Regions from separate parts of the Homo sapiens genome. Here region 1 is linked to region 2. The links come from fine-mapping of genetic effects on gene expression. A gene starts in region 2. The other region holds a variant in brackets. All regions are shown on one strand. Distances are from middle to middle. Region 1 overlaps PACS1 (phosphofurin acidic cluster sorting protein 1). Region 2 holds the start of RIN1 (Ras and Rab interactor 1).

Region 1 (2,911 bases), 130 kb before region 2:
AGACATCTCTCAAAAGAAGACCTACAAGTGGCAAACAGGCATATGAAAGGGTATGTAACATCATTAATTGTCAGAGAAATGCTAATCAAAACTACAATGAGATATCATCTCACCCCAGTTAAAATGGCTTTTATCCAAAAGACAGGCAATAGTGAATCCTGGTGAGGATGTAGAGAAAAGGGAACCCTCGTACACTGTTGGTAGGAATGTAAGTTAGTATAGCGAATATGGAAAATAGTATGGAGTTTCCTCAAAAAACCAAAATAGTCCCATGTAGCACTATTCACAATAGCCAAGATTTGGAAGCACCTAAGTGTCCATCAACAGACAAACTGATAAAGAAAATGTGGTACATATACACAATGGAGTACTATGCAGCCATAAAAAAGAATGAGTTCCTGTCATTTGCAATAACATGGATGGAACTGGAGGACATTATGTTAAATGAAATAAGCCAGGTACAGAAAGACATACTTTGAATGTTCTCACTTACTTCTGGGAGTTAAAAATTAAAGTCATGGAGATAGTCTAATGATGGTTACCACAGGCTCATATGGGCAGTCGGGCAGTGATGATAGTTAATGGATACAAAAACATAGAATGAATAAGACCTGGTATTTGGCCAAGCATGGTGGCTCACGCCTGTAATCCTAGCACTTTGGGAGGCTGAGGTAGGAAGATTCCTTGAGTCCAGTAGTTTGAGACCAGCCTGAGCACCATAGTGAAACCCCATCTCTATTTTTTAAAAACTTTTTTTTTTTTGAAACGGAGTTTCACTCTTGTTGCCTAGGCTGCAGTGCAATGGCGCAATCTCAGCTCACTGCAACCTCCACCTCCCAGGTTCAAGCGATTCTCCTACCTCAGCCTCCCAAGTAGCTGGGATTACAGGTGTGCACCATCATGCCCAGCTAAATTTTGTATTTTTAGTAGAGACTGGGTTTCACCATGTTGCCCAGGCTGGTCTTGAACTCCTGACCTCAGGTGATCTGCCCGCCTCAGCGTCCCAAAGTGCTGGGATTACAGGCATGAGCCACCACGCCCAGCCAAAACAATTATTTTAATTATAAAAATTTTTTTAATGTTTTAAAGATCTGATATTTGATAGTGCAACAGGACGATTACAGTCAATGATAATTTATAGTACATTTAAAAATAACTAAAAGTATAATTGGAATATTTGTAACATAAATAAATGATAAATGCTTGAGGCGATGGATACCCAATATAACCTGATGTGATTATTACATGTTGTATGCCTGTACCAAAATGTCTTATGTACCCCATAAATATATATGCCATGTACCCATAAAAATTATTAGTTAAAAATTGAAATAAAGAATAAATGAAAAATAACAGCTTATTTTCAGACATCCAAGAAACCCCAACAAATTTCCTCAAATATCACTACAATACTCTTA[A/AT]TTTTTTTTTTTTTTTTTTGAGAATGGGATCTCACTATGTTGCCCAGGCAGCTCTTATACTCCTGGGCTCAAGCTATCCTTCCACCTCTGCCTCCTTAAGTGCTGGGATTACAGGCATGAGCCACCACATTCAGCAATAATACTGTTAAATATCTATATGATAAGAATTTTTGGTTTAAATAAGAAGCATTTAAAACAGCAGTAACCTGGCCGGTCACGGTGGTTCATGTCTGTAAATCCCAGCACTTGGGAGGCCAAGGCAGGTGGATCACCTGAGGTCAGGAGTTCAAGACCAGCCTGGGCGACATGGTCAAACCCCATCTCTACTAAAAATACAAAAATTAGCCCGGCATTTTGGCACATGCCTGTAGTGCCAGCCACTGGGGAGGCTGAGGCAGGAGAATCGCTTGAGCCTGGGAGGCGGAGGTTGCAATGAGTTAAGATTGCACCACTGCACTCCAGCCTGTGCAACAGAGTGAGACTCTGTCTCAAAATAATAATAATAAAACACCAGTAACCTAATTTTTAAAATAATATTAATATTGGATATTTTAATGTGCTATGTTACTTTAGTATTAAATATAAATGGTTTTGCTTCTATACTGCAAAAGAAGATATACTGTTATATAGATAAACAAATGATACAAAAGTATATTAAAAATAATTTTGAAATTGGACCCTGGTTGGTAGTGCCCCAGGCACCTGGAAGAAGCAAATACTGGAACCCATGAAAGCTAAACCCCTGGGGAAGGGTAGTAAAGATGAGGACAGTAGTGCACCATGCTTGAAAGGGCTGGGCTGGGCTGGGCCTGGCTGCGATCCCGTGACACACTGCACTCCGCATCCTGCTACCTGCACACGCAGATTACTTCTAGCGAATTTGAAATTCAGATAGTGAATTTGGGATACAAAGTTTTACAGGTATTTAGAGCACATACTTGGGTGGTGAGAGTTCATATAATCATATAATGAGGCTACTGCTGTTGGAAGGTGATGTCCTATAGTGACAATAACTAAGATAAAGGGGACCGAGAGGGCTGGGGTGGAGGAAGTTAACGGATTCCCTACGGTGGTCACGGTAGACCTGGTTGAGAAGATGACATTTACCCAAAGACTTTGAGGGAGGTGAGGGCCATGCAGGTATCTGGAGGAAGAGCCTTCCAGGCAGAGGGAAGACCCAGGACCAGGCCCTCAGGCCTTCATATTCTGTGAATATATGCTCTGAGCTGAGAAATCTTAAAAGAACCCTAAGCACTGATTACTTTTTTCAACTTTTATTTTGGAAAAATCTCAAACGTGCAAAAGTAGACGAAGTAGTTTACAATTCCCTCGAACCCCTTACTAAGCTGCAGTTGTTATCAACTTATGGCCAGTCTCGTTTCGTCTGTGTCCCCACTGTTTCCCTTCACCAGTGTTATTTTGAGGCAATCCGTACATCATAACATTTCACCCACAAATATGTCGATATGTATTTCAAAAATGTAGGCAGTATA
Region 2 (2,911 bases):
CATGGCCCGGGCCCGGCTCAGCGCCTGACGGATGCCCTGCAGCTCCTGGGGCTCGGGCCCAGCCCGCACCTGGGTCAGTAGGTCCTGCACCAGCTGGCCCGCGGCTGTGTGTCGGTCCTGCATCAGTGCTGCCGCAGCCCGGCCCACCTGCCGCTCCGGTGCCAGTAGGGAGCAGAAGGCGGCGCTCATGGACCGAAGCAGAGGTCGTCGGCGGCCCAGGTGGGGTGAGGTCGCTGGGCTCCCCCGGGACCCTGGCACCCCCTCCTCCTCGGAGCTGCTGGGGGAGCCGCAGTCCACCTCTTGGAGGGAGGGCATAGGCGGAAGGCTAGGGCCACTGCCTGCTGGCACGCGGTACCCCACTGAGCTCTCCCTCCGTAGCAGCTGGCAAGGGGGCAGCCGCTCTGTCTGGCTGGGGACTGCCCCTGGCAGCACGGGGACGGGGGGAGGTGGCACGGCAGGTGGAGACAGGGGGCTGGAGGTCTCTGTGGACACGCGCACTTTGAAGCTTCTCTTGAATTTCTCCCGCTTGGTGGGCCCTAGGTCCCCCGGGAACAGGGGGTTGAAGAAGCACAAGGCGGCTCCGGTGCCCTGGTCCAGCTCTTGAGGGGACCGGGCCTTCAGCTGGGGCAACACTGGGCCTCCAGCCGGGCCCCGCTGAGCCTTGATGTTGAGGGAGGAGCTCCAGAACTCTAGGGAACAAGAAACCGACTGGGGCCTCCGGGACTGGTTAGGGGAAGTTTCCCAACCAAGGCAAGGCAGGGGCTTCGGGCGGTGTGCTGCGAGCCTTGCCTTCCCCTCGGCCTCAGCTTGTTCATCTGTGCAATGGGTGGCAGGAAGCCCTTACCAATGCCCAGATGGGAGATGGCCTCCAGCTCTTTGTGAGTGGCTGCGTGGTGGATGGCTCTGGGGAGCTGCAGCGGGAGGAGAAGGATGTCCCTGAGGCCAGAGAGGGGAGCAGAAGGGAGTGAGGGCCGAAGAGGGCGGGAAGGATGGGCTGTCCCAAGGAGCAGGGCCCGTGGACACCAGGCACCCTGCGGGCAGACTCACCGGGTGTGGCAGTAGGCACAGATGAGCTGGACTAGGTCTGGGAACATGAGCTCCGAGCCCTCCAAGGAGACGCCTGAGAGAGGAGGGAAGTGAGGTGCTTCTCTGGGGAACCTCCCTGCTTCCAGCCCCTTCCCGCCAGGCCAGCCCCTCACCGCCAGGGCTCTCCAGGATGTAGTGGCTGGAGACGAAGGAGGGGCCACTGGCTTCAGGCAACCGCATGCACAGGGCCTGGCACTGGCGGGTGTTAGATTTCCGCACGAGGAACGTCTGCAAGTGGATAGGGCTCAGGCAGCTCAGGACCTTGGCGTCCCATCCCTCTCCCTCCCACCCCTGGCTGGCCAGTCCCTGGAGTGTGGGGCAAGACTCACCCCCGGGGGCTCGGTCCTCAGCATGTGCAGTGCGGCCGCTGCGTTGGCTTGCAGCTGCAGCCACACGGGCCGGGTGAGCAGCAGGCGCTCCCGCAGGCTCACAACGCGCCCCGGCCGCTGCGGCCCGCCTGCCTGCCCGCCGCTGGCATTGGGCACGTCATACAGTGGGTCCTGGGCTGGCCTGGGGGCAGGCACCCAGATCTGAGCAGGGAGCCAGGGGCTGGGACCCTTGCTCTCCTCTTCCCCACTCCCGGGTTTCCCACTTTCTCTATCCCCGGATAGGCCCTCCTCTCGCAGCCCCTCCCTGCCCCACCTGGCTGCCCTGCCAACTTCACTAACTTTTCTCTCGCCAGGTGCCCAGTAGTGAAGCTGGACGGGCTGGGGGCTCCAGGAGAGCCCGCGCCTGACTCTCCAGGGCTTTCCATGGCTGGGAGCTCCTTCGCTTCAGGAAGAGAATCCAGTCCCAAGGCAAGGCACGCACATCCCCAGTGAGTAACACTTCCTGAGGGCGGTCCGCCTGTCACACCCGCCAGTTAACTCTTGTGTGTCCACCCTGCCTGGCCAGTGCCCGCCTCCTCTGTTCTGGACCCTGCTTTGGGGGTCAGGGGTCCCCTCCATGCTAGCCCTGCTCTGAGGGCCCCAGCTGGGGGATGCCACCTCCACACACGGCCTCCTGCAGCCTCACCAGCTACTCACATTGCACACGTGGGCGGGAAGTGGTTAAGCGGCCTCAGTCCCCACAGGCCCCAGCCATGCTCTGGGGGCACCTTTGGCTCTGTGGTCAGTTGCTCATCTGCCCCTGGCCTCAGGTCAGCCTTGTGGGAGAGCACCCTCTACTGTCCATAGATGACTCATTCCTGAACCTGGGTTTTAGGATTTTAGGTTGCCATGGAGAAAATATGCCATGTCTCCATGGAAACCAACCTATTTGCTTAACTGAGGTTCTGGGGGTGGTTCTGACACTCAGTGCTAACCAGGGGGAGTCTGGCTGTGAGGTCGTCAGCACATGGCGGTGCTGCCGGCTGCCTCCCACGCACGCAGGCTCTGCCAGCCTGCCTTGCCAATCTGCCAGGCAACTGGGACAGGTGCAGACATGACCCAGGCTCCAAGCACACGCATCCACCCTCCCCGCCGAGGCACTCTCCCGGTGCCATATGTTGACTCTGCCCAGCGCCAGGCAGCCCAGCGCCCACCTCCCCCTCCCCAGCCTGGCCCCACGCACAGTGCTCTAGCCTCTGCTGGGTAGTGTGAGGAGTGGCAATCTGCAGGCACCCTAGAAGTCGGCCTGGTTCAGGTGCTCCCCACGGGAGCCCTGATTCTCTTGCAAGGTAAATCACACACACACACAGGGCACGCCAGAGTCCCAGGAAAGGTTTTAATTCCAGTCCTTGGAATCTGAGAAGCAGACACCAAGAACTGCCCTGAGAACACCTGGGGGGCCTGGCATCTTGCCTCCAGATCCAGCCAGGGTGGACAGACCCCCAGATAATCACGTC

What was found. PIP is the estimated chance that this variant, and not a neighbour inherited with it, causes the effect.
Region 1: its variant is fine-mapped to the expression of RIN1 in whole blood (INTERVAL, PIP above 0.99).

What each region holds. Positions count from the first base shown.
Region 1 is chr11:66,204,240-66,207,150 of GRCh38, forward strand. All of the region lies in intron 2 of PACS1 (phosphofurin acidic cluster sorting protein 1), which reads left to right. Among named protein-coding and RNA genes, the nearest start is that of KLC2, 52 kb to the right of the region's middle. The variant A/AT (reference allele first, on the strand shown) is at 1,419.
Region 2 is chr11:66,334,563-66,337,473 of GRCh38, forward strand. RIN1 (Ras and Rab interactor 1) reads right to left here and starts at 1,872. Exons shown (of 10, transcript NM_004292.3): 1 at 1,755-1,872; 2 at 1,416-1,596; 3 at 1,200-1,314; 4 at 1,048-1,120; 5 at 845-936; 6 at 1-689. The coding sequence starts at 1,840. BRMS1 (BRMS1 transcriptional repressor and anoikis regulator) reads right to left here. Exons shown (of 10, transcript NM_015399.4): 10 at 2,777-2,911. RefSeq lists an enhancer at 2,352-2,911.